2 separate regions of the Homo sapiens genome follow, and region 1 is linked to region 2. The links come from fine-mapping of genetic effects on gene expression. A gene starts in region 2. The other region holds a variant in brackets. All regions are shown on one strand. Distances are from middle to middle. Region 1 has its middle 34 kb from the start of TTC34. Region 2 holds the start of TTC34 (tetratricopeptide repeat domain 34).

Region 1 (4,376 bases), 34 kb before region 2:
ATTGTGAACCGTGCATGCGAGGGATGTAGGTTGTGCACTCCTCATGAGAATCTAAAGCCTGATGCTCTATCACTGTCTCCCCTTACCCACAGACGGGACCATCTAGTTGCAGGAAAACAAGCTCAGGGCTCCCACTGATTCTACATGACAGTGAGTTGTAGAATTATTTCATTAGATATTACAATGTAATCATCATAGAAATAAAGTCCAAATAAATGCAATGCCCTTGAATCATCCCCAAACCATCCCCCACCCTCCAGATCCATAGAAAAATTGTCTTCCGCAAAACCCGTCCTGGGTGCCAAAAAGGTTGAGAACCACTGAATTAAAAGGTTCACTAACAAGGGCGGAAGAGAATGCTGTTTTATTTCTGACAGGATCAGCTGCAGGTTATTCAATGTCCTCAACAAATCCCTCAAGTCAGGCACAGCCGTTATGGAAATCAGATTTTTTAACATGACCAAAGTCAGAAAAAAATACTCGTGCCTCATCCCCTCACATCACACAGATTGCACGGGGTACCCCATCTGGAGAAGAGCTGAATATTCCATCTTTTGGAGCAGCAGGCCTCAAAGATAAATACTCTTGACTACAGCAAGGCCTTGTGTCGCTTTTCCAGACATGGCTTCCCCTCTGCAGTGGGCTGGGAGGGGCTGTGCTGGCCTCTTGTCTCTGTGAATCAATCCCTGTGTTCGCTGCATTCCGGGCCCTCCTGCTCTGGGCCCTCCTGGCGGCACAGTGGTCCTCCCCAAAAGAGGTCAAGCCAATGAAATGTCCTTGCTTCTATCACCAGTTTCGGGAGACAATGGGACAAATGGTTTTGAAGCACTCCCAAGTCACCCAGGGCCAGACACTAATTCACATCTGCCCCGTAGTGGATTCTAAGTACAGACTCGACCTCCCGGCCGAGGCAGGTGCCATCGATCCTCCAACTCACGCAGACTCGGTGCTGGGCGCCTCTGCGCTGTCCTCGGCTGTTACCTTTGTGGTCTGTTCTAGGACCTTCTCAGTAGCCACGCAGCGTGAATGCCCATTCTGTGCAATTCTGAGTGGAATCACTTCTCTACCTTTCGCAGCAAAATTCTTCCACTTAAACCTAAAAAGCATTTTGCAGTTGTTCTAGGGGAAGAAAATGATTTTATCTGGAGGTTCCTGAGCTTTAAAAAAAAAAAAAAAAAAAAGAGATGCAAAAGCTTCAAGGGCCCCCTGCCTATATTTGACAAAGTTTCCTAGCAGATAATGCCCCGGGGGTCAGGGAGATGGATCTCGGCCCCCGCAGGCCTCACAGCCGCTGTGCAGCCCTTCAGAAGAAAACAGTTATTATTTGCATAATGGGATTTCTGCAGAAATCATAATTAATCTTAAATTTCACATTAGTGAATATATCTGAACCAAATTGCTCCAGCACTTTTTCTTCTGAAACCACCACGCTGCCTGAAGACCACTTGAAAGTGGCTGGAGCCCCCCAGGGGTCCATGACTGCCCTTCAGGAGACCCTGTCTGAGGCAGAGAGAGAGGGGGCGAGGCTGCAGGGTGCTAGGGGAGGGGCGCGGCTGGCAGTGGTGGGGAAGGGCACAGGAGGGGCAGCCTGGCCGAGGGGGTTTTAGGGACTATATGGATTTTATTAGCAGGGTATAGGGTAGCAGAACTGGGGGGCCGAGTGGCCGCTGTGTGGGAGGGGGAGCTGCCCAGCCAGGTGTGGGACCACCACTGAGCCACTCTTGTTTGGACAATGACTTGGAAATTACCCCTGCTCGACGCTTGAAACCTTAAGGTGAGATTTAAAGGGACTGGGGGCATTGAGACCATTCTCAGTGGGGGCCACTTGATGTTTTTCCAGATGACCTCCTGGGTTCAGGGGGCCTCCGGCTTGAGTGTCTAATGACTCCCAGGGGCTGGCCCCCCACTCCTCCATTGTACAGTCCCTGCCCCAGCCCCACCAACCAGGCAAGTGTCCCAGGACCTGGCCTGGAAACCTGGGTCCAAACCCACTATCGTGGCTGTCAGAACCCGGGATCCCCGGGGCCTTGTGCCCCAGCCACACAGCTGGCTCAGCCAGAGAAGGCCAAGTTTCTAGAAGGCACTAGATGGTGGACTGCAGTGGGGGCAGGCGGCACTGGCTGCCGGGGCGAGGTCGGCCCTGGTTCGGGGCGAGGGCAGTGCACAGAGCCCCCTTTCTCCTCTCTGCCCACCCCATGGAACAGTGGAGACATGTCCAAGTTCTCCAAGGAGGTCTGCCTGTACCAGCTCCGGATCCCTGCGTGGCCGCACCTCCCGGCAAAGCCTCTTTGTCCACGGCTTCCTGGCAGGGCCCCTACTGCAGACTCCTGTTCTGTAAACACCTCACAGCCTCCGACCCCCGACTCCCTCTGGCTCCCACCTCCCCCTCCCACTCTCTGTACCCACAAACTTCCCCTGGGCACCCACTGTTCTGGGCACGCTGGCGTTTGGGGGAAGCACGCACAGGCCCGGCCCAGGGCCTGCCCAGGAAAAGCTGAGGCAAGGATGGCAATAACCGTCCTCCTAGCTCGAAGCGATGGCTGGGAAGTGGCCCGGCCCCTCCATGCCTGGTGTCCTTATCTCTAAGCGGGGAGGAAAGGTGTCCCCCTCAGAGGCTGTTTGGTGGAGCAGCGGAGATGCCACTG[G/A]GGTGAGGCATTTTTCCTGATATTTTCCCTGGGGCCGGGGAGGCATTCTCAGGGGCAGCCCAGAGCAGTGCGGTCAGCCCCCCAGAGCCCTGGGCCACACAGGACAGCGCTCAGGCCACTTCAACAGCGAAATCAGCAACAAGAAACGCACAAAGCAAGAAACACGTACTAAATCGACCTCGAGAAAGAGGCTTGCTTGGCACTGGGTACACGTCCGGGTGACCTCAGGGCACTGGGAGTATGTATTTGGAGACCACCCATAGCTTTCATCACATAGACAAATTGGTAAATGTGGAATCCGTGAATGAGGATCAACTGTACTAAAAACAAATCACTGAATTGTACGCTTTGAAAGGGTGATTGGTGACTTACACCTGGAATGCGACATACGACACGACGCAGCCCTGCCCCGAGAGCCGGGAAACAACCCAACACACCTGCAGTGGGAACGGAGACTCCTGGGGGCCCCACGGCACCGCTGCTCACCCCAGCACCTCCCAGATCCTGGGGCAGGAGCCACTGCTTCTCCATCAAACCCGCCCTCTGACCACTCCACAGCACAGTCCCCTTCGGGCGGCACACACAGGGAGGGCAGGAAGAGCAGGACAGGCACACCGAGGCAGAGCCCGAGGCTGGTTCCAGGGAATAGGTAGCATGGACACGGGGCTAGGGGAGGCGGTGAGGGGCTGGGAGGCAGGAAGACCTGGCAGAGGGAGCCCCCTGAGCACAGTCAGAGGGAGACATGGGGTGGAGTTGCATGGGATGAGGAGAAGCCCCGATGCCCGGGATGGCCCTAGTTTGCACTCACTGTCCCAGCCAACGAACAGCTTCCCCCACTCTCAAAAGCACCCCAGTCTCGGCAAACGATTCTCTGGCAATCCTGCAAAAGGGCAGCATGCATGGCTACAGCACAGTGCCGGGGTGCACGGTGGAGGGGAATAGGGCTCTCCCTCTTTCCGGGGGGGTCTTTAGCTGAAGGGGCTTCAGCCAAAACATGGACCCTGTTTCCTTCCCCACTGGAGGCAGAGGGGCCATACCTGGTCCCCCGGAGGCAGCAGCACCCTGCCTGCCATCTGAGAGACACCTGTGTTGCTTGTCTGACATCCGCTGTGAAGAGTCAGGGGAGCCTCGGTGCTGCCTGGGGAGGATGGCACAGGAAGCCCCAGTGGGGCAGCTTCCCGCCTTCGACTCTGCCCCCACCCTCTGCATCGCAGCACTCCCAGCACCTGGCCAGGATGGGAAAACATTGCAGACAGTCACCAGGGACCATCCTCTGCACGCGCTCCCTCCCGGCCTCGAGTGACTCTATTAGAGAGAGTATGTTTTATTAATATCAGATATTAAAGTTTAATACTGTGATTGCAGGGGAAAAATGGGACTTCACCTTCAAGGAGTATTAGCGGATTCCAAAGAGAGTCTGTGAGCGGGAGGCACATTTGTCACAGCTTTGCAGGATGGGCGCCCCCATCCATCACACCCTTGGTGAGCTCTCCACGCTGCTGGCGGTGGCCACGGGGTGAGTGTCGCGACCCCGTCTGGTGCTCCCACCGGGTCAGCTCCCACCCCAGGGGTCTGGGGCCACCAGGAGAGGAAGTGTAGGTGAGGCAGGGGCACCAAGACCCCAGAGAGGGGGCTACAGACTCTGCATCCTGCACCTCTGGGTATATGGCTGGGACAGAGGCCGACCCCCTTCACTGGCCCCTGATTTTATGCAGGGAGCTCTGTGGGGCC
Region 2 (4,376 bases):
CGACCACATAAACGGGGGCAGCCAAGCAGGCTCAGAGCAGGAGGAGCGGCTCCCAGGGCGTCGGAAGCAGCTCCTGGGCTCTTCGCAGGGGTCTGTAAGGACAAGTAGTTGTTGTGGGTCCAGTCAGGGCTGAATGCTTCCATCACCCTCAAACCCTGTTTCCCCCTGAAGCGTCAGATGAGCCAGCTCCCTACGCTGTCAGTGCGCTAATGGTCTTGAATGGGAAAGTGTGCAGAGGGCAAATGAGCAGTATCCCCCGCCCCCCGCTAGCCTCAAGTTGGAAATGTTGGAAATCCTTTTGACTCATAAACTAAAGCAGCACAAACCCGAACACGAGACCCTGAGACTACCAGGCACCGGCCTCGGCCTCCCTGTCCGGCTCAGCCGCCCACTTTTGTCTGTGGCAGAATCAGAGACGAGAGTGCGGATTGGGAGGTGGCGTGGAGGCGGCCCTGGGATTACCTGCATCCAGGTGTGCTGCTCTCAGGCAGGGGCTGTGATCATAGCTCGGGACCCTCCGAGACTTCCAGGCTCATCTGGCCAGTGCCTGTGGGCCCCGGGCAGGGCACTGTGCACAGGGCAGAGACGCAGGGGGCCCATCGGCACTGCTGTGATGGCAACTGTCGCGCAGACCTGCCACCTCTGTGCCCCGGGCTCTTCTACAGCCCTGGTGACAGCCCCACTCCATTACAGCTCTCGCCTAATTAGGGCAATTAAAATGAAAGTAATCAACACCGAGTAATGGGCAATCTCTTAATAAACTGCCCCCACTGCATTACCCGCACAGGCCTTGGGCCCTGGTGAATGTCATGGAGCTGAAGAACTGGGCCAGGCAGCCCCAGCCCTGCTGACCCCCCTGCCCTGCACCCTCAGACTGACCCTGACTGCTCTGCCCACGCTGCAGGGGCTCCACACCCTCCCCAAAGGGCCTGCGGGGCATGTCTCAGGAGACCCAGACATCGAGGGGATCAGGGATGCCACCCCCCACTCCCAAGATCTCCTCCCCCAAAGGGCACCCCCAACCCTGCTTCCCTGAGCCCCACAGAGGAGCCAGCATTGGCCTGGTGTCCGGGCACCTTGGCATCCTGAATTGGGAGGGACCTCTCTCAGGGACGCACCACCCCCATTCCCCCCACTCATGCCTGCCCTCCAGGGCAGCTGCCGGTGGTGGGGTCTCAGCTTCAGGGACCTGAGCCTGCCTCCAGCCACCCCACTCAGTCTTTCTGCTCCTGCGGCATGGGCTGACGGTGGCCACGGGCTGAAGGTGATGTTTCCTAAAATAGTCCCTATGCTGCCACCCCTTCCTCAGCAACAATCAGGGTCCCTGGGCAGTAGGCTCAGGTCATGGCTCCCAGAGCTGCCTCTGGGCCTCAACCCTGTGATGGGGGAGGGGTGTGCCCTCGGCTAATGTGCCCTGCCCTCCCCAGGGCACAGCTGGCTCAGCTGGTGCAGGCAGGACAGGGCTGCCTAAGCCTCTCAGAGGGAGGACGGCCAAGGGAAATGGGCTGGCTGTGCACGGAAGGTCCAGTCCCAGCTGCCGGCACAGGGAACAGCCTGTGGGGAGGTGCCCCAGGACCGGGTGACAGGGCCCTGCCAGAAGAGGAGTGAGGCTGGGCGGTGAGGGGCCCGCATAGCAGCCCAGGCGGAGTTCTGGGGGACAAACCCAGAGCCTGAGTGCACTGGGTGGGCAGGCGGCCCCCACCTGCCTCCAGGAAGCGCCCTCCTCATCTATGTGGAGAGGAGGCTGGGGGCACCCTGGCAGAGCAGGCAGGGTGGAGGCTGGCCCCGGCTATGGGGGGCTGTACCCCACAGGCCCCTTCTCCCCCAACACCCCCATGAACTCAGGGTTCTCTGCTCTGAGGCAGCCCATTGGAGCCTGGCTGGGGCAGTGTGGGTGGGACCTCGGCCTGGTAGCCTCTGGCCACAGCGGGGCGCTGCAGGACAGCCAGGAGACCCAAGGGTGTTGACACTCTCCCGGGAAACCGCAGGCTGTGCCTTCCCCAACCCACACGGGGCGGTCATAGGAGCCCCACCCAGGCCTGGGCCCTCCAGCCAGCCACATCCCTCTGTCCCCCACCACCCACGAGGGAATCTGGGTCCCCAGGGCACAGCCGGCTCAGCCTCCAAGCTGCAGACGAGTGTGAGTGTGTCTGTGTGTGTCTGAGAGCGGATGCTGGGGGCTGCCTGTTTGATGAGGGAAGAAAGGGCTGTGCGGAGCTAGTTCGTCAGGTCAAGTAGCTTGGGGACAGGGAATAGGGGAGTACCAGGGGCTGTCCCTGGAACCTCAACCTCAAAACTGAACCCCCCCACCCATGGGCTGGGGTGGCTCCCCCGACCCAAGGGCCTGGCAGGTGCTCTCGGCGCCCCCCTCGAATGGCCCAGGTGTGAGAGGGTGGGCAGGGGTGTGGTCCTGCGTCCCACTGAGAGGGCTGCCTGGACTGACGGGGGGTGTGCCTTCCTGAGGGGCTCAGGGTTGGGAGGGGCAGAGGGTGGGTCCGGGGTTCCTATTGCTGGGCCCTGACACCTCGGGCCACCGTAACCCTCCCGACATGGACACTCAGGGGTCAGATGTTCTTAGAGGGAACTGAGCTGGGGGAGGCCACTGTCCCATTCTGCAAGGCACGAAACTGAGGCCCCAGAGGTGAACAGTGGGCTGGAAGTTGGCCTGGGACACCTGGTAGGCCCCACCCCACCAGCCCAGGATCCCCCCAGTTTTCACCCAGTGGGGTCTGCACTGACCGTGGGGTCAATGGGAAGGGGTGGAGGTGGCTTGAGGCTGGGCACGGGTGGCCACAGGGCAGGAGAACTGGCCGCCCTCTGTGGACTCACCATGCTCCCCCACCCCCAGGTACTCTGAGGACCAGACATGGGCCCGTCGGGGTCCCAGACATGATGTCAGCCCAGGAGCTCGTGGCCTGCCTCTGCCGGGAGGGGGAGCAGCATCTGGCGCTGGGGGAGCTGCCCCTGGCCACCGCCTTCTACCTGGCTGCATTCAGCTGCCACGCCCCCTCAGCCCTGCAGAGTGTGCGCACTGCCCTGGCCCAGGCTCGGGGGGCGGCGGTGGTGGCCACCCTGGAGTCCTGGTGCCGCGGGGACAGCCAGATCCCCGCCATCCACTGGGACGGCATGGCAGTGGTCTCCCTGACAGGGTCGCTGGCCTCTGCCTTCCTCGGCGCCCTCTGCCCGGACCACCCCGCCGCCATCCTGCACCTGCTGGCAGGTCTGCTGGCCCGCGGGCGTCACGAAGAAGTGGTGCAACGCTGCAGCGCCCTGCTGGACTCTCATGCACAGCAAGTCCTGGAGCTGCGGCTGACCCGCGCCCTCGCCTGGGTCCTGTCCGGGGTGCAGGCAGCGGATGGTGTGGCCGCCTATCTCCAGGCCTTCGCCTCCAGCGCCGACCGGACGGTAGCTTTCATTCGCACCCACCAGCGGCCCCACCTCCCCGCGCTGCTCAGTGCCCTCCAGGACTACCTCTCGGGGCACCCGGAGGCTGGGCACAGTGCCGGCCAGCAGGAGACCGGTGGCCAGCGACTCCTGGCGGCTCTGGACCCCAGGGGCACCCGGAGTGACACCCTGTCACCTGAAGCTCTGCTCCACAGCGGCAGGTTTGAGGACTGCCTGGCAGCATGCAGCCGGGCCCTCGAGGCCCATCCCACCGGCAGCGAACCCCAAGGTAGGAGGACGGCATGGCCCCTGCAGAGCCAGGGTGAAAGCTGCCCCCGCCACTCCCTCCCCACATGGTTATGTCCTGCCATGATGGGGTGAGGCTGTGCTGGGGCTGGGGTGCCTCAGTGACAAGAAAGTCAGGCCCTGCCCCTTTGGAGCACCCAAAGACACAAACAAAATGCATGCTTTAAGAAATGGGATGGGCAAGGTACTGCTCCAGCCGGTGATCAGGGAAAGCTTCTCAGGAGAGGAATCATTTAGGCTGAGAGTGAGGGTTCCAGGCAGCAGAAGCAAATGTGCCAAGTCCTTAGGGGAGCAAGAGCTTGGGCTCCCCCTGCCACTGAGGGGGCCAGGGCGACTGTCGGAGGGAAGGGGAAAACGAATGGGAGACTGAAGATGGCAGCTGTGGGGCTAGATCCTCCTGGCCTCCCAAGGCCCTTGGATGTTACCCTCAGTCTGTGAGGCTGAGCTGTGGAGTGAGGTACTCTGAGCTGCATTTTTTTTTTTGAGATGGAGTTTCATTCTTGTTGCCCAGGCTGGAGTGCAATGGGGCGATCTCGGCTCACCGCAACCTCCACCCACTGGGTTCAAGAGATTCTCTTGCTTCAGCCTCCCGAGTAACTGGGATTACAGGCACCCACCATCATGCCTGGCTAATTTTTGTATTTTTAGTAGAGATGGAGTTTCATCATGTTGGCCAGGCTGGTCTC

What was found. PIP is the estimated chance that this variant, and not a neighbour inherited with it, causes the effect.
Region 1: its variant is the best candidate, but not a certain one, in a credible set for the expression of TTC34 in tibial artery (GTEx, PIP 0.63).

What each region holds. Positions count from the first base shown.
Region 1 is chr1:2,833,069-2,837,444 of GRCh38, reverse strand. No RefSeq gene overlaps it. Among named protein-coding and RNA genes, the nearest start is that of TTC34, 34 kb to the right of the region's middle. The variant G/A (reference allele first, on the strand shown) is at 2,646.
Region 2 is chr1:2,799,341-2,803,716 of GRCh38, reverse strand. It overlaps TTC34 (tetratricopeptide repeat domain 34), which reads left to right and starts at 2,024. Exons shown (of 9, transcript NM_001242672.3): 1 at 2,024-2,140; 2 at 2,849-3,673. The coding sequence starts at 2,890.